Linked DNA regions of Homo sapiens. The protein of the gene in region 1 purifies or fractionates together with the protein of each later gene. This does not show direct contact. Each region holds a gene or a part of one and is shown on either strand. Other genes may lie near its edges.

Region 1 (7,769 bases):
AGCAGAAACGGGCGCCCGTGGGTCAGACCAGGGCCCCCCGCTCCAGGCGCGGTGAGCCGGCGTCTCCCCTCCCCCACCAGACCCTCGGCTGGTGACCCTGAGCGTTGAGCGATGGGTGGGAGCGATGGGTAGGAGGGGCAGGGGCGCCGGAATCTGCGCGGCTCTGGCGGAGGGGCTTGGCGTCTGGCTGCAGGAAGCTAACTGAAGCCAGGCACCGCACAGGGCATTGCGAGCCTCGGGGCTGCGGAAGGTACCGCAAAAATGAATATTAATGGCGCCTTTCAACCTTTCAAAGATGTTCACATCCACATGCTCCTCTGCAAGACAGCCTGAGCAGGTCCTTTCATCCCCACTTGACGGATGGGGCCACTGTGGCTCAAGGAGAAAAATGACCTCGCCAAGGTCACACAGCTCATCCTGGCCCAGGCAGCCCCTGAAGGGCTGCCTCCTGGGGGCCCAGGGCTTTGCTCTCTGCGGCTTGGTTGAGGTCCGGTACCCGGCTCCCTGCTCCGACTTCTGCTCCTCCTCCTGCTCCTCCTTCTCAGGCTCCACTTCTTGGGCGGTTCTGCCTGGTACTCACTAGCTCATCTCAGCCACTCTGCTCCCTGTGTCCCTGCTTTTGACCCTTGGGTCCCAAACCCCACTCCCCTCGGCTGACTCCAAGTCCCCACATCCAGGGTCTTCGCTGACCAAGCTGCCCCCATAATTTGCTCCCAGGGTGAGGGCTGGAGGCAGGGCAGGCAAGGGCAGCCTGCTGGGGCGCCCCAGACACAGCCAGGATTCTCTGATTGGGAGGAGGGGAACTGCGTTAGAGGTGGGCTGCCCAGGGGGGCCTGGGGTGGGTCAGGGCAGTGACACTTGCACTCACATTTCCCTTCCTGTCTGCCCAGGTCAGCAGCCACCTCCTCCTCTTCCCATCCCCACCCCAGTGAGGTCAGCAGTCAGGGTTCATGGGGGCTGTGGAGACTGAGAGGAGGCGGCTCCTCCTCCCTTGCCACTACCCCTGGGTGGTCAGATGGGGTGTAAATGAGATGCAAATGCATCGAGCGAAGTGTTCCAAACCCCACTTGTCCAGACTCCAGAAGGGAGATGGGGAGGGCCAGAGAGAGTTTCAGGGGCTGTGAAACAGAAAGAGCGGGGTGGGATGGGGACTGGGACCACGAAAGCAGGAAGAAGATCAGAGGGCAGGGGATGCAGACCCTGGCACTGTTAACATGGACACACCACCCACCTCACCCCCAGGCATGAGGAGGGGCCCCCTTGGGCTTGCTGTTTTCCTTCCAACTGCTACCTCTCCCTCCTGGTCCTCCAGGCTCTGTGTCTAACCCTAATGTCCTCCCACCCTCGGTCAGCAGCTGTCTCTGCCTATCTCTCCTGCAGTGAAACCTGCCTGTCCATGTGTCTGCTTCCCTCACCCCACCTGACCCTGTCACTCAGGCCTCCAGGGTAGCAGCCCAGAATGGAGCCCAGGCCTGGCCACCAGCTAGGTGGGGCACTGGGGCTCACAGCCACTCAAGAACTGAAGCTGTAAGTTGACCAGATTAAAAAAACAGTCCACGTGTACAGCCTCTCCCCACTAGATGGGCCTTTTTAAAGGGGCTCCCACCAGCAGCCAGGTTAGGACTGGTAACTCAGCTAGCTGACATGGACACCTTGGGAAGTTACCCCCAGGGGTCCCTGGGGCTGGAGGACAGGCCACTCCAGGGAGTCCCCCTCTTCCTGTCAGCTGCTCTCCCCAGTTATCAAGGCCAGGGATACTGGCCCATCTGCTGAAGAGGCCCTGAGAGGGAGGCTTTCAGAGCCCCCAGAGAGCTGTGCCCGCCACCAGCCCCATCCCCATGAAAGGCCAAAATCCTAGGGACTCTGGCCTTACTGAGAGGGTGTCTTCCTTGGGGTCACAACCAAATTTGGCCATAGTAAACCCGACAGCTTCCTCTACACAGGGCCTCCACTCCCTCACCCATCCCAAGAGTCGCAGCCCCTGCTTCTCCCATTCCCCACCCCTCCATACCCCTCCCAGCCGGGCCCTACTGACTCAGCTCCAGCCTCCCGGGCTCCCACGTGCCTTCACAGCCTGCCTGTGGCAGGACAGTGCTCCCCTGTCCCTTCGGTCTCTAGGCCTCATGTCCCCAACTCCAGCCCCTTCCTTCACATGTTCGAGGAGTTAAGGACATCAGCTTCTGGTGGCTGAGTCCGCCAAGGAGACCCTCAGAGCCCCTAACTTGGGCTAAGTCCCTAGAGCGGTCCTCTCCCCCACCCTAAGGCAGAAGCTCCAGAGCCCTCCCGCTGGGATGCAGAGGTGGCTCAGCCTGCGAGCTTCCCGCTACAGTGCCTCCAGGGTCACCTGCTCCTTGCTCCGGAGACACAAGCAGTGACACTGTCCCAACGGATGAACAGACAGCCCAGCCCAGCCTCTGCCATGTCCCCATCCCCCACCCCCACCCCCAGGGCAGGGGCAACACCTGGGCCCACAAGGAAAAGAACGAAAGTCAACCTGTCGGCTACAGCGAGGACCCCCTACTTGGGGGGTAGAGTCCCCAAGTCCCACCCCCGCCCCTGACAAGAGCCATGCAAACGCCTCCCTTCCCCGCCTCGCGTCAGACCCGGCCGGCCGCCTGGCGACGTGTTCGGGTGCCAGGGCGCCAGCACAGTCCCGCGGCCGGGCCGTGGGCCATGACGCCCCCCACTAGAGGGGTGGGAGAGCGGGAGCGCCCTCCCGGCCCCTCCCGATCAGCCCTCCATTCAGCCCGAGCCAGCTCGCTTGCCCTCCCCCGCTAACTTTCCCCCACTCACCACCCCATGGACCAGAAACTCAAAAAGTTTGCTTTTCGTGGCTTTGCGCGCCCCTCCGGCAACTTCGTCCGCGGCCATCGGGGTGGGCTCAGCGGCTCCTCTCACTCTCTCTCTCTCTTCCTCTTTCTTTCCCTTTTCTGCCTTTTTTTTTCCTCCAACTCTCCCCTCTGAGTCCTGCTGGGCTCTCTCACACTTCTACTCGAGCGGAGTGGGGAGGGGGCCCCTTCAGGGCTGCCCTGACGGCCCACGGCCCACGCCGCCGCCGCCCGCCCGCCGCCGCCGCCGCCGCCGCGGCTGCCGCATTCCTGCACTGATAAGACAGAAATAGTCCGGCGGCCCGGGGTCTGCCTGTTGACTCGGCGGGGACGGGGCCGCCTGCCTTTCCAAGCCCGCTGTCCAAACAGCGCAGATAAGCGGCGAGGCGCGCCGACCAGCCCGGCCGCGGGCGCTGGGCAGCAGTGCTGCAGCCCGAAGCCGCCGAGGCCCGCGGGAGGCGGCGCGGGGAGGGGACGCCAGGGGAGGCGGCGGGGGGTCGCCGGCCACCGGCTCTCGCCACAAATAGTTTCTCCGTCAGGGAATTCGCCGGCCGCGCCAGGCAGGGAACAGTCAGTTCCAACTTTTCCCCCAGCGGCTCCTGCTGCATTTCTGAGGCCCTTTCCCCAGAGACCTGGCAGGCCGAGCAGGGAAACATTCGCTGGCAGGAACCGGGGGAGCCCGGCCCGCGAGGCCTCGCGCCTGCCCGGGGCCGGCGGCGGTGGGTGTGCCCGGGCGGCGGCGTGGCCCTGCGTCCACTGCTGTGTGTGCCCTTGTCTCACACGCCGTGTGTGTCCGCGCCCTTTTGTGGCGTGGCAGCTTATGTGCGTGCAGACAGACGCCCTGTATGTGTGCCTCCCTCCACGACAGCCTCCGTGCGCGCGCGCCTGCGTGTGTGGCAGGACATGGCCTGTGCCTTTCAGCTCTGTGAGAGGCTATTTCTGGGTATGTGAGTCTTTGTTTGCCGCTCTGTGAGAAAGTGAGGGCAATAGGGGAAGTATTTCAGAAAGAGGGACAGGGATTGTGCTCATGAGAACAGGAAGAGAATGAATGTGGGGAATGGCGCAGCGCCAGGGGGGTGCTCGGGTGGGTGCGTGGAGAGAACGAGGCAAGCTGGGCTTGGTTTCCTTGGGGTGGGGGTGGAGTGGGGTTAGGGGACCCAGAGGAGTTGGGGCAGCTGGGCTGGGTATAGTGGGTATATTGGGCCGGCCTCAAGACCCCAAAGAGAGGGGTCTTGAGGCTGGGGTGTGGCGTGGGGTGGCAAGGGAGCCCCAGAAGGGGCGTGTGGAAGGAGTTGGCAGTCCCTGGAGTGGAGGAGGGACCGGAAGGAGGAGGGGCAAATCCTGACATACCCAGGCAGGGAGTCCTGGGCCTACCCAGGTCCCCAAAGGCCACGCCCCTTTTTTCTCCTTCTTGGGGAGGAGCCGTGGGCTTTGGAACAAGGCCCTTGGGTCAAGTTTGGGGGTCTGCTGGGGCCTCACTGTGAGAATCCAGGTGAGGGCAGGACCATAGCCTAGTGCCTAGGGGAGTTTGTTGAAACACTTACTTGAAGTTGGGCCCTGAAGACTGAAGGGTACTGACCCTAAACCCTTCAGAATGCCTTTGCCCAGGGGGTCCTTTCTGCCTGCAGCCTGATTTCTGCTGGCCCTGGTTGTGCTCTTGGCTGTCACTGTTCATTTAGGTGCCCACTGTCAATCTGAAATGTCAGGGAGGACATCTGGTCCAGGTTGCTCCTCCACCACCCCTAGCTTGAAAGGGGACCTAGAGATCCCCTTGCTACCAAATCTCTCCCAGGGCTTTAGCCTAGACTACCCCCCACACACCCCCACACACAGAGCCTGGGCCCTGACACGGTGGGGATGGGTGGGTGGCCTGCCTCTGTCTGCCATAGGTCATGCTGCTGGGAACCTGGGGAAGTGACTTGCCCAGTCTGCCTGCTAACCTCCAGAATCCCCGCTCACTCCCATTTCTTAGCCCCTGCCCCCGATTCTTTTACCTGGAATGCCCTTTGCCTGCCCTCTGCCTTCCCTCTGCTTGTCCAAATCACACCTATTCTTTAAAGCCCAGCCCAGGCCCCACTTCCTCCAGGAAGCCTTCCTTCGTCCTACTTGTATGCAAAGATTTTTCTCTTCTCCAAATGCTCATTGCCATCTACCCAGCACCATGAATTGGCATTGGACTGGCCTGACGTGCACTGTGCTTCAAGGACATTAGCTTTGCTTTCCCAGAGAGGCTAAGGTCCCCATAAGGTCAGAGACTGATCTTTAACTCCCACTCTTCCTCCATGCCTGGGCACAGGAACTCAACAGTACCCCAGATACCTGATGCTTGCAAAGCTTAATGAGCCAATGCATGGAGCTGGTACTCTGCCATTTACCTGATGGTGTGAGTTACCATGGGCACCCCCACCCACCATGGGTGCGTCTAGCAGGGGCATGGGAAACCACAGGCCTTGGAGGTTCTGGGGGTTGGAGATAGACACCCCTAGGCTTTGTTAAAGCTCAGTGTTCTCAACTATTGGAGAGACCTTTTGGGAAAAGAAGACAGCAGAGGAGATGCTGGGCACTCCAGTTTGGGTAGCTGGGAAGTTTGAGGCAGGGCCTGGGAGATCCCGGGCTTGGTCTTGGTGGTGGAAGAGGTTGCGGGAGGTAGTTAGACGAGGGGCTATGGTGAAGCCCCTGTGGAGGAGCTGGTGAGCTTCACCCAAGTCCATACATAAGCGCTCTCCTGAGCCACCCCTCTGGGAGACATCCTTAAGTGTACACAGACAATAGATACACCTTGCACACACACCCTCCCAACACACACACAGCAGGCACACCAATACAAGCACCAAAAGGTCGAGGAAGCCACATGGCTCTGCACACACAGGCACACCTTGAGCACCTCCACATCCCGTGGTGGGCCCCATTCACAAGGCAGGCCCAGACACATTTGCGTACTGCTTTTAGGTGGGCGACAGGAGGAGCCTTCAGACCAGAAAGCTGGGGCGGCGCCAGTGTGGGGGCCCGGGCCAGGGCTCCCTCCTCACAAAGGCCAGGATCCCCAGTGGCTTAACCCCAGAAGGGCGCTCGGTGTGCCACGCCGCCGATGGCTCCTGCGGGTGGGAAGGAGGCCCGGGAAGAGCGTGGATTCCTCCCAGCGCAATAGGGCGCCCGCCGCACTTGGGGCAGGCCGTGCGCCTGTCGGGGGCGAGGGCGGCCGCCCGGCGCCCGGCGCCGCAGTCCCCCCTGCCGTCCCCCCATCGCTCCTTCCCTCGCTGAAGCACCACCAGCACCAAATGGCAAAGCGCCGCTCCCCGCGCAGGGAGAGATGCGCCGCGGCCTGCGGGACGGGCTCGGCCGCCTCGCCCCCACCGCGCCCGAGCGAGCGGGCGGCGGCCGGGGAGCTGGGGGGGCTCGGGCCGGCCCGGCCCGCGCCGCCCCTCCCTCCGCCCGCGCCGGTCCCCGGCCTGGGCATGCGCGCCGCGGCCTCCCTCCCGGTGAAGGTCAGCCCGGGGCCCAGCTGCAGGACTCCGCGGCGGCCGGGGAGGCGGCGGAGGGAGGAGGGATGCGGGGAAGAGACTTAACTCCTTCCCTGCGGGAAGATGGCCACCTAGGCCGGGCCCCAGCCGCAGTCCCGCCCTCCTGCCCTCCGTGAAGGTCCCACCACGGGGACTCCGCTCGGGGGGCGCGGCAGGAGGAGCAGGAGAGCGGGGAACATGGAAGAAGGGGCTGGAAGGAGAGAAGAGAAGCTGGCGAGGGGATAGGGAGGAAGGGAAGGGAGGAACAAAGGAAGCGAGACTGGAGGGAGAACGGATTGCTTGGGAGAGAGCTCTTTCCTCTATTCCCTTTTCCCTACACCCCCAGCAATAAAGCTCTCCTTAGGAGAATACGATCACCCTCACTGGGGCGGCCTGAGTGAGTGTGTGTGTGTGTGTGTGTGAGAGAGAGAGAGAGCGAGAGAACGCGAGAGGAGAGGGAGAGAGAGAAAGAAAGAGAGAGGGAGAAAGTGAGACCACTTGGCGCTGTGAGGACCACAAAGCCTTGGTTTCGGTGTTCTGGCCATCTCTAAACCAGGCCCCACTTTCCGCCATCCAGCCTACCTGCCCGGGCTAAGCACCAGCCTCGGGGGACCTCTGGCTAGTCCTTGGGGTCACGCCCAGCTCCAGAGAGGGAGGAGGGGAGACTACCTCAACCCCCGCCTCTGGTGACGGTCAGCAGAGGGGACGCTCCGAAGCCAGGCCAGGGGCATCAGGCACCTTCCTCCTCCTCCTCCTGGCTGCCCCCATGCTGCTTCCAGGCCAGGGCAGCTGTGCGCTTCCCTGTTTGTGTTGGGATGTTTCTGTACCCCCGACACTCTCTGCTGCTATCAAGGGGGCTGTCTCTCTGTGTGACTTTGTCTTTCTGTGTCACTTTTGCAAACATACACGAAAGAGACAAATGCAATATATAGAAGCAAAAAACAAAGAAAAACTAGGACACCAAAATAATGGTGCGACCTTGGGCAAGTCGCTGTACCTCCCTGTCCCTCAGTGTCCTCAGAAGTGAAAGGAGAGGCTTAAGTCAGAGCATTCCTAGAGCCCTTCCAGCTCTGAAATCCAAGAATTTCCTAAGACAGAGGCAGGAACCAAGGCAGACTGGGAGGAAGGAGGGGGACAGAGGGAGGGAGCAGAGCGACGGAGCTGTGCCGGGAAGCAGACCCGCACCGAGTGAGTGGGGGCTGCTCACCATGAGTGAGGCCTGGTCCCAGCTCAGCACCCCCTCCTCTATGGGGTCCTCAGGGACGCGGCCCTCCCACTCACTCCCTCCGTCCTCCCCTCAGAGTAGCTCTCTCTGGGTGGCTCTGCCCCTGTCACGCACACCTGGCTGAGCCCTCACCCCTACACCTTCAGCATCCAGACAGCAGGGTGGGCCTTACCTTGGGGTCCCCAGGGTCCTGTGTGGCAGGCAGGTGCATGCGAA
Region 2 (7,192 bases), on another chromosome or scaffold:
CCACCCAAGGCTCATGGGGCCAAATGATCTGCCAAACACTTCGGCTTCCCTCTGGGTAAAATACAGGGTGCCCTGTTAAATTTGCATTTCAGATAAATTAGATAATGTTTTAGTATAAGTGTGTCCCAAATATTGCATGAGACATACTCAAAAACATTTATTTTTAAAAAAATCTTTCATTGTTTATCTGAAATTCAAATTTAACTGGGTGTGCTGTATTTTTATCTGGTTAAACCTGGCAACCCCACCCCCCCACCAGTGGTGAAATGCATGGTTGGTGACCACACAATTAATAAACAACCCACAGTCTCATGGGCTGAGTCTAAGACCCAATCCGAAGGCGCGGGGAAGGTGAGATATGGCTTCTCAGGGGCCAGAGAAACCTGGGCAATAAGTCCAAGGCTTTCGCTTAGAAGGGGCCAAAAAAAAAAAAAAACAAAAAACCTCAAAGCCAAGTTTCTACAAAGTCCACCTTACAACACAGACAACACTGAGCAACAGCTCCTCCTGCGCCCAGGGCGCGGTGCTCTCGGAGGCATGACCTCAATCGTCCTCAATAACCCGAGGGGACCTGGAAGCCAAGCACAAAACCCCGGGTCACCATGGTTAGAGAAGTGACAATGATATGCCCAAGGTCGCGGCAACGAAGTGAACTGGAAGCTGGACCATGAGATCCCAAAGCCTGAGGTCTTCAGAGGACACGATGTGTTGTTTCCCCAAACCCAGGGAGGCGCAGAGGTACAGCCCCTCAAGCTCCAACTACAGGCCTGGTCCCCGCGGGGTCAGCGGGCTGGAAGGCCTCCAGGCCGGCCGCCCCGGGGCCCGCGGGGTGGGAAGCCCCATCTCTCCATCTGCCCTCCCTGCAGAGCAGCTGGCCGCTCTGCGGGAGCAGCTGTCAGGGTGCAGGAGCCTCTGTCCAGCCGGGAACCTGGAGTAGGAGGCCCCACCACGCCTCCTCGAGCAGAGAAAGGCGGCTTGCCGGCTGTTTCCCAACCTCCAGGCCGGCGACAGAAGGGACCCAGGCACAGACACCAGTTCTTTCTTTGCACAGGGGCTGAGGCAAGGAGGGGAGCAACTCCGGGCTTCCCGCGGGGAATCCCACAGTAGAGGGGGCTGCGGGTTGTTTTCCAGCGTGTGTGTGTTGGCCTGCAGCTGTTTCTGCCATTTTTAAATGGCTCCAGTCGGGCACCGGGCACCCTGTGTACCAGGGGAGCTCCCGAGACACCGACGACTTGGATCTCAACTTTGGAAAGCCTCCCCTTCTCACGGTTCTGAAAATTCTTTGTCCCACTGGAGCCAAACCCAGCCCACGGCCGGGCATCCGGCCATCGCAGCCAGCCCTTTCCATAGGAGGCCGGGGAGCACGTGGACTTTATTGATTTTCCTCTTGCCTTTTTTGTTGGGTTTGACTCAGAAAGGACAGCTAACTTGTGACACCGCCACACCGGAGGCTCGCCCCCAGTGGCTTTTAGAGACCGAGGCGCTACTCGAGAAACGACACCCCCAAACGTAAACATCCCCTGCCACAGGGCCTGCCCAGCTTCCAGGCTCGAAATAAAGGGTCGAGACGAGCCCGCGGGCGCTGACACTCAGAGCCAGCGTTGCGGCGGCTCCTCTCCCTCCGGGACCCCAGTGAAGGCGTGGGAAAAAAATAATAAAGTTGAAATCAGGCAGCGGGGAGTTTTCAACAACTCTGACCCAACCTGGCGATCTGCTTGCGCCTCGGGCCTGGCCCAGGGGCCGATTCCGAGCAGACCCCGACGAGGCCGCGGAAAGGTTCGATCCCCTTAATGTCGACCGGGCCACGCCGGGCGGACGCTAATGTGATCCCGAAAACCACGCGCGGCCGCCACCAAGTCCCCCTCTCCCCGGTGCAGAGAACAAAAACAACAGCTCCCTCCGCAAAACAAACACGAGCTCCCGGTGTGGAGAGGCAGCCGCGGCCCAGGACGAACGGCTTCTGGCCAAAAACATCGGCTGGCCCGAGCCCCCCGCCCGGGGCGCCGCGCAGAGCGGGGTGGGACGTGGGCGCCCCGCGCCCCTGGCCGCTGGCTCCCAGCGCTCGCCCCCATCTTTCCTGGTCGCCGAGAGCCCTCGCTCCAGGCAGCCCAAAGCGCTAAATTTAAACGGCTCGCGCTCTGCAAACTCCGCAGACTCGAGGGCGCCGGGCCCGGGAGGCGGGAGCGGGCGGCCGGGCGGGCCGGGGCTGGCGGAGGGCGGCGGGGCGCGGGCCGGGGTGCGCGGGGAGGAGACGGCGGCGGCGGCCCGCTCGGAGCCTGCACAATGGAGCTCGCGCTCTCCCCGCCGCCGCCGGCATCGCGGCCCCGGCGCGCGGGAAGCCGCTTTCATGTGACTTGCACAAAACGAAATGGCTTCTGGGGCCGGCCCCGAGCCCCCCTCCCGGGAGCCGAGCGCCGCGGCGGGGGCCGCCCCGCCGCTCCAACCGCCTGGCCCCGGCGCCCGCCGCCTCCGGGCCGCCGCGCCAGGTGGGCTACAGGCGCGAGCGCACCTGGGCAGCGGCCGCGGCCCCAGCCTGGCGCAGGTGACCCGGCTCGCGCGCCGCCCGCCCGTCCGCCCGCCCTCGCCAAGTCCCGGGGCCCGCGGCGGGGCTGGGCCGGGGCAGGCGGCCGGGGCGCTGCGCCCCGCGGCTCTCTGGAGCCGCGCTCGGGCTCGGGGCGGCCGGGGAGGCGGCTGGCGGCGGGCGCCTCCGCTTACCATTTGCGCACTTTCTCGATCGCCGCCATGACCCTCTTGATATCATCTTTGGCCCGGCTCCTCGTCTCGGCTCGAACCGACCTGCCCGACATGGTTCCGGCGGGGAGACGGAGGCTGGGGAGCGCGCCCGCCGGGTCCTGCTCGCGCTCCGCGGCGGCCACACTCGCGCCCGCCCGCCGCTCACTCACTCGCGCACAGACACTCGCACTCTCACACGCACACACTCACACACACACACACACACACACACACATACACACACACACAAAGCCCGGGGCCGCCGCGCGCCTGGCCCAGTGCGCAAGCGCCGGGCGGCAGCTGCACAGAGCAGGGGGAGCCGCGCCGCCGCCGCCGCCGGCAGTGCGGCCTCCGGGCGCCGCGGCCACCGGGCAGCGCCCCCGGGCCTCCTGCGCCCCCAGAGGGGACGCCCCGGACGCCCTCCTGGGGAGGTGGCGAAGGGCGCACGGCGACCCCCGGCTCTGGGCGCGCGGTGGGGGCGGGCGTGCGGACACGCGCGCTGACCCTTCCTCGGAGGCTGCAGGTGCCGAGGGGTCCATGGGAGACAGCCGGTCTGCGGGGCGCGGGGGGGTCGCGTTCCCCGGGAGCCAGCCCAGCTGCCCCTGCCCAGCCCCCAGAGCGCGGCGGCGGGTGCAGTCGTGCAAGTTTCTTGCGGGTCTCTTGACTTCTCCGAGTTGAAGGCACCGGTTCGGGACGCGAGGTGCTCTTGGAAAGAGTTGGGCATCGCGCATCTCTGCTGGCCCGCGGCCCTGTTCAAATGCGAGCTAGGACGTCGCCTGCCCCAGGCTTTGTCCTTTTGGAAAACTAGGGTTGTAGGAAGGTGCCTGGTGCCAGGCAGACCACCAGAGACTCTCGACCTTGAGTACTAAAGAGTTTTCTGCTCAGCAAAAGCTCAATGATGATCAGCATCGTAACAGGGACTCTTCCTCCCGCCCCCAGAAGTTCTCTTGTCATAAACAAGGCGAGGGGGTCTTCGCTGAGCTTCACCAGAGGACCACGATTTCACCTTAAGCCATTCCTGACTTCAGTACCAGACTGAGACCAGGCGCTGCTACTGCCCAAATGACCCCTGGTCCCATCTACAAGGAGCACTTTTGAGGCCTCAGAACAGAGCCCCGGGGAGAAATCTGCGATGATCAGGGTAACCTGGGTGCCGCATCTTGCTGTTCAGCTGCAGCGGAACCGGCCGGACCAGAGCTAATGCGCGCCCAGAATGAAGAGGGAGACCGAGAGTGGCCCAAATGTCAGCGCCCCGGGCCTGGAGATGACAGCCCGACAGCAGCCATTTCACAGCTGGGGAAACTGAGTCCTGGGAAAGTTTAAGGTTGCAGCCTTAAGTTGTTACTCATTCTAGACGTTTCCCCTGAGGGTTTGGTCTTTGGGGAACACGCTACTGTGGAAATGGAGAGACCGCAGGCCTTTTCCTAGGCATTTGTTTTTACTATTCTGAAACGCAGTCTCCTGACGTGAAAAATGAAGAAAAGAACAAATACTGGCCGGGCGCGGTGGCTCATGCCTGTAATACCAGCACTTTGGGAGGCCGAGGCGGGTGGATCACTTGAGGTTAAGAGTTCGATACCAGCCTGGCCAACATGGTGGGTGAAACCCCGTCTCTACTAAAAATACAAAAATTAGCCGGGCGCGGTGGTGGGCTCCTGTAATCGCAGCTACTCGGGAGTCTGAGGCAGGAGACTCGCTTGAACCTGGGAGACGGAGGTTGCAGTGAGCAGAGATCCAGCCACTGCACTCCAGCCTGGGAGACAGAGTGAGACCCTGTCTCAGAAAAAAAAAAAAGGCCGGGCGCGGTGGTTCATGCCTGTAATCCCAGCACTTTGGAGGCCGAAGTGGGCAGATCACGAGGTCAGGAGTTCGAGACCAGCCTGGCCAACATGGAGAAACCCTGTCTCTACTAAAAATACAAAAATTAGCTGGGCGTGGTGGTGCAGGCCTGTAATCTGAGCTACGCGGGAGGCTGAGGCAGGAAAATGCTTGAACCTGGGAGGCAGAGGTGCAATGATCATGCCATTGCACTCCAGCCTGGGCAACAGAGCAAAACTGAATCTCAAAAAAACAAAACAAAACAAAATAAAACAAAACAAAACAAAAAAAGAAAGAGAGAAAGAAAAAGAAAAAAAAGAGAAAGAGAAAGAAGGACTTCAGAGAATCGTTCCGAGAATTTTCTGGGAAAATATGCAACAGCAGGTCATAAAACAGATCTCACAGAGATATGTGAGATCAATAGGTATGTGCTTTGGGCCACATGAAACTTTAAAAAAATGTATCTTAAAATTTAAAATAGGAAAATATTATGTCAGAATTCAAATAGTGACTGAGGAACAGATAAATGTGTCTATCCACACAATGGAATATTATTCAGCCATAAAAGGGAATGAATACATGCTACAACATGGGTGAACCTTGAAACACGCTAAGTGAAAGAAGCCAGTCACAAAAGGATAAATATGCGTAAGTCCATTTGCGGGAGATATCTACAACTAGGCGAATCCATAAAGACAGATATCAGATTGGTGGTTGCCAGAGGCAAGGGGGAGGGAGAGCAGGAGTGACTGCTAACGGATGTGGGGTTTCCTTTCGGAGTGATAGGAAAGTTCTGGAATGAGATAGTGGTGATGGTTGCAGAACAATGTGAATGTACTTAATGACGCTGAATTGTACACTTTTAAATGGTTACAATGGTCAATTTTATGTGTATTTGATCATAATAAAAAGAAATCTAGGCTGGGCGCGGTGGCTCACATCTGTGATTCCAGCACTTTGGGAGGCCGAGGTGGGTGGACTGCTAGAGGCCAGGAGTTTGAGACCAGCCTGGGCAACATGGTGAAACCCCATCTCTACAAAAAATTCAAAAAATAGCCAGGTGTGGTTGTGCGCATCTGCAGCCCCAGCTGCTCAGGAGGCTGAGGTGGGGAAGATGGCTTGAGCCCAGAACGTAGAGGCTGCAGTGAGCCAAGATCATGCCACTGCATGAAGCAAAGAAAGAGAGAGAGAGAGAGAGAGAGAGAAAAGAAAGAACGAAAGAAAGAAAGAAGAAAAGAGAGAGGGATGAGGAGAAGGAGAGAGGGAGGGAAGGAAGAAGGAAGAAAAAGAGGGAAGGAGGGAGGGAGGAAGGAAGGAAGGAAAAAAAAAAATACCCAGCTTCTCTAGAACCAGCAGATCTGCAAACTGGACCCTCAGTGCCACATGGCACCCATCGGCTAGAGCAGAGAGCTCTGTCTGTATCTTTCAGACAGAGTTATCTGGGTCACCAGTGCACTCATAGCCACTTTACTCATTTGTGTTACCTGTCTGGCCCCTGAAAGTATTTGTGATTTTGATCCCCAATAAAACCATAAAGCTTTCTTCAAATGTCCTTTGTAAATCTAGTATGTCACTTTTAGTAGTTTCCTGTCTCCTGCAGGTATTTTTACACTTCTTTCTTTCAACAAAGCACAGTAGTTTTACAGCCTGTGTCTGATGATTCTAGTATTTGAAGTCTCCAAGAGTCTGTTTCTGCTAGGTCTTGCTCATGGTGTCATAGTTCCTTGTTATATGCCTGGTTCTCTTTGACCATGCTGGACACTATTTTAAAATTTATTCATAGGGATAATTTGAGGCCTCCCCCTAGAAATAATTTATATTTGCTTCTGCCAGGCCCCTCAGGTCACTGCTAGTCTGGGGTGACCTCAATCCTAGTTCAGGGTTTGTGAGCCCCCGACCACTCAGGTGATGCGAATCCTGGCCGCATAGTTGTGCAAGACTGGTTGACTTCTTGTAGTCTGAGGGTGGAGCCAGGGATGTGCTGCAGATGGTTTACAGGCTTCTGCTTCCCAGCTCTGTGTTTAGTGACCTCATGCTGAGAGTTTGGAATCAGCTGTGGAGGGAGTATTTACACCATGGAAATCGGCAAATGATTTATACATCAGGACCCTCCTTCCCCAGCCCCAGCCAGAGCTGGTGGTTGAACATTTACCAGCATACCATTGGTGGAGTCCGACAGGGCCCAGATTATCGTGGGAAAGGACTCCCGCTTAGTGTGAGTCGTGGATTTTAATTTTCTGGCCTTTTTTTGATTGAGACGGAGTCTTGCTCTGTCACCTAGGCTAGAGTGCAGTGACGTGATCTCAGCTCACTGCAAGCTCCGCCTCCTGGGTTCACACCATTTTCCTGCCTCAACCTCCCAAGTAGCTGGGACTACAGGCGCCCGCCACCACGCCTGGCTAATTTTTTGTATTTTTAGTAGAGACGGGGTTTCACCGTGTTAGCCAGGATGGTCTCGATCTCCCGACCTCGTGATCTGCCCACCTCAGCCTCCCAAAGTGCTGGGATTACAGGCATGAGCCACCGCGCCCAGCCTTTTTTTTTTTTTTTTTTTTTGAAACGGAGTCTCGCTCTGTTGCCCAGGCTGGAGTGCAGTGGCACAATCTCGGCTCACTGCAAGCTCCGCCTTCTGGGTTCACAC
Region 3 (7,823 bases), on another chromosome or scaffold:
CGCCCGCCTCAGCCTCCCAAAGTGCTGGGATTACAGGCATGAGCCACCGTGCCCGGCTTCTTTTTTTTTTTTTTTTTTTTTGAGATGGAGTCTTGCTGTTGCCAGGCTGGAGTGCAGTGGTGCGATCTTGGCTCACTGCAACCTCTGCCTCCTGGATTCAAGTGATTCCCTTCCCTCAGCGTCCTGAGTAGCTGGGATTACAGACACACGCCACCATGCCCAGCTAATTTTTGTATTTTTGGTAGAGTGGGGTTTCGCCATGTTGGCCAGGATGGTCTCAATCTCCTGACCTTGTGATCTGCCCGCCTCGGACTCCCAAAGTGCTGGGATTACAGGCATGAGCCACCGCGCCCAACAGCCTCTTTCTTTTTTTTAAGAAAGAGTCTTAAAAGTGTCACTCAGGCTGGAGGGCAGTGGTGTGATATCAGCTCACTTCAACCTCTGCCGCCTGGGTTCAGGCGATTCTTGTGCCTCAGCCTCTCAAGTAGCTGGGACTACAGGTGTGCGCCACCACACCTAACTAATTTTTATAGTTTTAGTAGAGATGAGGTTTCACCATGTTGGCCAGGCTGGTCTCAAACTCCTGACCTCAAGCAATCTGCCTGCCTCAACCTCCCAAAGTGTTGGGATTATAGGCGTAAGCCACTGCACCCAGCCAAGACTTTCATTTCTGACATCACATTCGGAAGGGATAGAAATTTACAAATAAGAAAATTCTTTTCCCAGGACAAGATGCAAGTCATACAAGATGAGGGGCCGGGCGTGGTGGCTCACGCCTATAATCCCAGCACTTTGGGAGGCCGAGGCGGGTGAACTCCTGAGGTCAGGAGTTCAAGACCAGCCTGGCCAACATGGTGAAACCCCATCTCTACTAAAAACACAAAAATTAGCCAGGTGTGGTGGTGGGCACCTGTAATCTCAGCTACCCGGGAGGCTGAAGCAGGAGAATTGCTGGAACCCGGGAGGCGGAGGTTGCAGTGAGCCAAGATCGTGCCACTGCATTCCAGCCCGGGCCGACAACAGTGAGACTCTGTCTAAAAAAATAAAAAAAAAGAAAAGATGAGCTAGTGGTCCTGACCTCAATGTACTCAATGTATAACATCAGCTGTCAGAAGACTAGGCACACTATAATCAAGAGAAGTGCCATATCTCCAAATGAACTGGAAGAATAGAAGCCCCTTCTTAAAGGGATAATTCTGTGGGAGTACGTATTAATTGTGATCTGAGGCCCTGTGCAGCTAGAAATGAGGAGGAGAGAGTTGGTTTCTCATTACTGGCATTCAGGAATTAGTGGCTGGTGATGCTCACAATCTCTACAGTTTTTCAAAGAGAAACAAGATGTCACGCTCTGTTTAAATGGGCAACCCCTCACTTATGACACAACTTGAAAGCACTGGCAACCCTATTTCTCTGAGGAAAATCTTCCAACACGAAGAACCTCACTACGTTTAACTCCCAAAACCTAGGCAAGTCTGATACTCCCCCAGTACAATGAGAATCTTCCTTTTTATTTTTGGAGAAACCTGTGTAAAACATCCCCTTACAATGGGATGAGGGAAGTCAACAAAGACGCAGGGAAACAAAGAAAGAACATCTGAGTCAGGAAGGATAACTGGATAAATGGTAGATCAACAGTGTCATTTCTAAATTGAGAAAAATGTCAGCCTGAAGAAAGAGCTGGGGAAACTGGAGTGGGCAGATCAGAGAGAAAGACAATAGCGTTGGGAGGAGGGGTGGCTGAAAGAGACAGCAGGATAGAGCAGAAAGCAACTTAAAAAAAAAAAAAACAAACCACAAGAGGAGGAAAGGCACTTAGCTTAATGGAAGTGGGAAAGCATTCTCAAAGAAAAGGCTTCAGGCAGGAGGGAGAAGCAACTTACTCTTTAAAAAGGCTCTTAGGAAGAGTGGGGCTCAGGCCACGACAAAGACAGATGAGAAGCTGTGAGTCCCTTAGAAGAGTTACCGAACCTTTACCTCGTCATCCAGTCAAAATGCAAAAACCCTGACTGGACAGCTAGACACCACTCAATTTTCCCACCCTTGCACCAAGCCCAACATACCCATTAAAAGAAGCTCTATTCGCCCACCATGCATTAACCCAATCTAAAACTCATTCTGATTCTTCTGTAGGAATAAATCAAGTCCCAAAGCATCTTTAACTCACAGGAAGCAGTTCATAGGCCAGCGTCCATGGCCCCAACAGCTATTAACTTTAACTTTGCTTGAAATCTGACCAGCACAATGGTATCGTATAATAGGAAGAATGCCCACCTAGATGCCCCTTTAGGCTAAGCTGTCCTGAACGGCTTCGGTCCAGTTGCAGGTTTTTGATGGCTGCTACTGGACGGGGCCAAGGCCCACTCCCCTGAAGTTCCTTCCCTTCTGGATCCGCTCCTCGATAAATTCTTCCCAAGAATATTTGTAGTCTTAGGTACCTGCCACCCAAGATCCTCCCAAACATCACGGGGCTGCCTGGAACTGAAACAGCCAGCCCCGCAGTGCACTCCGCAGGGGCCGCCGAGCCTGTTGCTGCAGCGAACGGGACGGGACGGGGCGGGGTGGGCGGCGGGCCAGCCGTAGGGCCGCCCGGGCCTCGGCCCCGCTCCTCCGGACTGAGGCGTCTCGGGAGAGGACCGGGACGGTGAGTCTCGCGTGCAGGCAGGGCGCCATGCTCTGGAAACCGTCAGCCCCGAGGAACGCTGAGGCCACACAGCCCCGCAGGGATGCCGCCCGTCGGGGCTCCAGTGTGCCCCCACCAGGGCCTCCACAAGTTTCCAAAGAAGCGCAACGTCTTCTCCGGAGTCTCCTGTTGCCCTCCCCACCAGGAGTCGCAACATGGCTTTCCCGGGGATGTCCCTCTCTCCGCCTAGTCCCTTCCCCCACCGCCCCCTACTCCCAGGCCCTTTACAAAACCTGCCGCCCTAGGAGAGAAAGAAACGACCACTCACAGCTTCACTACATTCTCCACCACAGCCGCCATCTTCCCTGTTCCTCTGCCTCGGGCCGAGAAGCCCCACAGTCCGCAGCGCGCAGGCGCCGGGACCGCACCGGGGTACCAGGTTCCTTGCCCTCTGCGCAGGCGCCGTCCGGGCGCGCGCACTAGAGCGAGCACTGAAGAAAGAGCTTTACGCCTGTTCGCGGGGGCCGGGTAGGAAATGCGTGGACCCCACGGGAGCCCGACGCGCAGGCGCAACCGGAGATTGGCATGCATCCCGGAGCTCCGGTTCGAGGCTTGCCTCTAATATTTAGAGGAGCAGGAGCCGGGGCCGGGCGCGGTGGCTCACGCCTGTAATCCCAGCACTTTGGGAGGCCGAGGCGGGCGGATCACGAGGTCAGGACATGGAGACCATCCTGGCTAACACGGTGAAACCCCGTCTCTACTAAAAATACAAAAAATTAGCCGGGTGTGGTGGCGAGCGCCTGTAGTCCCAGCTACTCGGGAGGCTGAGGCAGGAGAATGGCGTGAACCCGGGAGGCGGAGTTTGCAGTGAGCCGAGATCGCGCCACTGCACTCCAGCCTGGGCGACAGAGCGAGACTCCTTCTCAATAAATAAATAAATAAATAAAGGAAAAAAAGAAAAAGAAAAAAGATTAGCTGGGCATGGTGGTGCATGCCTGTAATCCCAGCTACTAGGGAGGCTGAGGTGGGAGGATCACTTGAGCCCAGGAGTTTGAGGCTCCAGTGAGCCACTGGAGCCACATCACTGCACTCCAGCCTGGGCAACAGAGCGAGGCTCCATCTCAAGAAAAAAAAAAAAAAAAAGGAAAAAAAATATATATACATATATATATACACATATATATATACACATATATACATATATATATATACACATATATATACATATGTATATATATACATATGTATATATATATATATATATATAAATATAATCACTAAAGCTGAAAATACACATACCCTATGACCCAGCAAAGTCCACTCCTGGATATACACACAAGAAAGCTGTACAAGAAGCTGAGTGCAATGCCTCATGCCTGTAATCCCAGCTACTTGAGAGGGTGAGGTGGGAGAATCACTTGAGCCCAGGGGTTCAAGACCAGCCTGGGCAACATAGCAAGATCCTGTCTCTTAAAAAAAAAAAACAAAAAAAAACAGGCCAGGAGCATTGGTTCACGCTTGTAATACCAGCACTTTGGGAGGCCACGGTGGGCGGATCACGAGGTCAGGAGATCGAGACCGTCCTGGCTAACATGGTGAAACCCCATCTCTACTAAAAATACAAAAACAAAATTAGCCGGGCATGGTGGCGGACGCCTGTAATCCCAGCTACTGGAGAGGCTGAGGTGGGAGAATGGCGTGAACCTGGGAGGCGGAGTTTGCAGTGAGCCAAGATCGCGCCACTGCACTCCAGCCTGGGTGACAGAGCGAGACTCCGTCTCAAAAAAAAAAAAATAAAGCTGTACAAGAATGTTCGTAACAACATTATTTGTTTATATTTATTTATTTATTTATTTTGAGACGGAGTTTTGCTCTTGTCGCTCCTTAACAAATTCTTCCTTCCAGCCCAGGCTAGAGTGCAGTGGCACTATCTCAGCTCACTGCAACCTCCACCTCCTGGGTTCAAGTGATTCTCCTGCCTCAGCTTTCCGAGTAGCTGGGATTACAGGTGCCCCCAGCTAATTTTTGTATTTTTTGTAGAGACAGAGTTTTACCACGTTGGCCAGGTTGGTCTCGAACTCCTGACCTCATGTGTTCCGCCCGCCTAGGCTTTCAAGTGCTGGGATTACAGGCATGAGCTACCACGCCTGGCCAGCTGATGTAACCTTTTCTTAAACAATCCTAAAAGAACTGAAAGCTATTGATGCTGGGTTCATAAGCTGCCTTTCCAATTATATGCAGCTAGCCTATTTATTATTAGTACTATTTTTAAATTCAAACTTTTAATTGAAATATACATAAAGAGAAGCACATAGATCTTATGTAGCTTGACTAATTTTTTTTTTTTTTTTTTTGAGACGGAGTTTCCCTCTTGTTGCCCAGGCTGGAGTGCAATGGCGTGATCTCGGCTCACTGCAACCTCCGCCTTCCGGGTTCATAGCTTGACTAATTTTTTTCAATTTTTTAATTTTTGTGGGTACATCGTAGGTGTATATATTTATGGGTACACGAGATGGTTTGATGCAGGTATACCATGCAAAATAATTGTAGCTTGATTGATCTTTACAAAATAGACAAACCTGTGTAACCACTACCCAGATGAAGAAAAAGACATCACTAGCACCTCAGTAGCCATCTCATGCTTCTAGCCCTAAAGATTAGTGTGTCTGTGTAACTGTATGTCAATGGAATCATACAATATGTCCTATTTTGAATTTGGCTTCTTTTGTTCAATATTAATTTTTTCCTTTTTTTTTTCAGCCCCCACAATGCTTTGTCTACAGTATTACATTTTTGAGATTTTTTTTTTTTTTAAGACAGGGTCTTACTTTGTCATCCAGGCTGAGTGCAGTCGTGTAATCATGGCTCATTGCAGCTTCGACCTCCCAGGCTTAAGTAATTCTCCCACCTCAGCTTCTCGAGTAGCTGAGACTACAGGCACACCACTACACCCTGACTAATCTTTTTTTTTTTTTTTTTAAGACAGCGTCAGCCAGGCATGGTGGCTCATGCCTGTAATCCTAGCACTTTGGTAGGCCGAGGCGGGTGGATCATGAGGTCAGGAGTTCGAGACCAGCCTGACCAACATGGTGAAACCCCGTCTCTACTAAAAATACAAAAAAATTAGCTGGGCGTGGTGGTGTGCGCCTGTAATCTCAGCTACTTGGGAGGCTGAGGCAGAAGCATTGCTTGAACCCAGGAGGCGGAGGTTGTGGTGAGCTGAGATTGTGCCGTTGCACTCCAGCCTGGACAATAGAGCAAAACTCCGTCTCAAAAAAAAAAAGACAGTGTCTCAAAAAAAAAAAAAAAAAATCTCAGTGGCACAATCTTGGCTCACTGCAACCTCTACATCCCTGACTCAAGCAATCCTCCCACCTCAGCCTCTCTGGGACTATAGGCACACGCCACCATGCCCAGCTAATTTTTGATTTTTTTTTTTATAGAGACAGGGTCTCACTATGTTGCCCAGGCTGGCCTTGAGCATTCCTTGCGTTCTGGCCTCCTGAAGTGTTGGGATTACAGGCGCGAACCACCATGCCTGGCTGAGATTCATTCATGTCCTTTTGTGGTAATAGTTCTTACATTGCTGTTTAATCCATATTACTGCTGATGGGCATTTGGGTTATTTCCAGTTTGGAGCTATTACACATAATGCTGTTACGGGCTGGGCGTGGTGTTTCACGCCTGTAATCCCAGCACTTTGGGAGGCTGAGGCTGGCAGATCACTTGAGGCCAGGAGTTCGAGACAAGCCAGGCCAACATGGTGAAACCCAGTCTCTACAAAAAATACAAAAGTTAGCCGGGCGTGGTGGTGGTGCCTGTAATCCCATCTACTTGGGAGGCTAAGGCATGAGAATCGCTTGAACCCAGGAGGTGGAGTTTGCAGTGAGCCAAGATGGCTCCACTGTACTCCAGCCTGGGTGACAGAGCAAGACCCTGTCTCAAAAAAAAAAAAAGAAAGAAAGAAAGACATGTTACGTCGCCGAACAACAGGTACTCTCTCTATATAGAAAACAGTATATATAGTGTTTCTCTGACAGACAGGAATCACGGAGTAGGAATTTTACATGCACATTCTTGGAATCTCAACTCTGCGCTCTGGCTGATTTAGAGCTTTTAAGACCCAAGGGAATAATGCTTCCACCAGGGGGCGCAGTAAGTTTCTCTAAATCACGATCAGATCGTCCGTCAGTAGGCCATATTTCGCTCCACATGCCACTGGGCAAGAAAATAAAAAGCGGGTCCCACTGTTGGCTGGGGCGATCAATTCCAATTGTAAAGCTTAAGATTGCTATTACCCAGTGGGGGCAGGGAGAAAAATCCGAGGAACTCCCCTGGGATGGCTCTTAATATTTTATTCGGGTAGGTAAGGGGAGATAGGCTCCTGATTAGATACTTGATTCCAACCTTCCCTCTGAAGACAAATTAAAAAAAGAAGAGGAAGTGAAAAAAAAATCTTAAAAGCATTGAAAAGCTAATAGTACAGTGAAGAATTATTGTGCCAACATTGAGGAAGCTAAAACCCAGAGAGGTAAGTTCAGCTTTTGAAGCAGTTTTTGTCCTGGAGGCATTTACTGATCTGGAAGATATAACCATGAAGTTAAACTGTTGTTTGGCAGTCTTTGTGGGGAGGGACGAAAATAAAAACCCAGAGCTTGCTCAAAGTAGGAAGTCAGATACCCCACTACTGACACGTATGTGCTGTAAGATACAAATCAATTTCCATGGACTTATAGTTCAGAATCCTATTATCTGTTTGGTCCAGGAAAGGGGGAGAGGAAAGCTCAGCCTTGAACTTGGATTAAGGTGGACCCATTTTTTTTTTCTTTTTTTTTTTTTCTGAGACGGAGTCTCTGTCGCACAGGCTGAGTGCAGTGGCACGATCTCGGCTCACTGAAGCCTCTGCCTCCCAGGTTCAAGCAATTCTCCTGCCTCAGCCTCCTGAGTAGCTGGGACTACAGGCACGAGCAACCATGCCCAGCTAATTTTTTATATTTTTAGTAGAGACGGGGTTTCACCATGTTAGCCAGGATGGTCTCGAACTCCTGACCTCATGATCCACCAGCCTTGGCCTCCCAAAATGCTGGGATTACAGGCGTGAGCCACCCCTCCTGGCCCAAGATGGACCCATTTTTGAAATGTTCCCAGTTACCTGACAAAAGCAAGCATATTTGGTACCAAGTAACATCCTTCCTGAAGGAAT

The links. The genes of interacting proteins can lie anywhere in the genome.
Region 2: the proteins of SMARCD3 (region 1) and BCL7A purify together in Homo sapiens (affinity purification with mass spectrometry; 5 studies listed by BioGRID and IntAct, with this or other methods). This does not show direct contact.
Region 3: the proteins of SMARCD3 (region 1) and DPF2 purify together in Homo sapiens (affinity purification with mass spectrometry; 5 studies listed by BioGRID and IntAct, with this or other methods). This does not show direct contact.

The regions. Positions count from the first base shown.
Region 1 is NC_000007.14:151,245,692-151,253,460, forward strand, and holds the start of SMARCD3 (SWI/SNF-related matrix-associated actin-dependent regulator of chromatin subfamily D member 3), read right to left. Parts: upstream 3,004-7,769; 5' UTR 2,872-3,003; coding exon 2,794-2,871; intron 1-2,793. UniProt on the Homo sapiens protein: Involved in transcriptional activation and repression of select genes by chromatin remodeling (alteration of DNA-nucleosome topology).
Region 2 is NC_000012.12:122,017,707-122,024,898, reverse strand, and holds the start of BCL7A (B-cell CLL/lymphoma 7 protein family member A), read right to left. Parts: upstream 3,016-7,192; 5' UTR 2,808-3,015; coding exon 2,716-2,807; intron 1-2,715.
Region 3 is NC_000011.10:65,329,044-65,336,866, reverse strand, and holds the start of DPF2 (zinc finger protein ubi-d4), read right to left. Parts: upstream 3,016-7,823; 5' UTR 2,981-3,015; coding exon 2,949-2,980; exon of another isoform or gene 2,272-2,948; intron 1-2,271. UniProt on the Homo sapiens protein: Plays an active role in transcriptional regulation by binding modified histones H3 and H4. Is a negative regulator of myeloid differentiation of hematopoietic progenitor cells. Might also have a role in the development and maturation of lymphoid cells.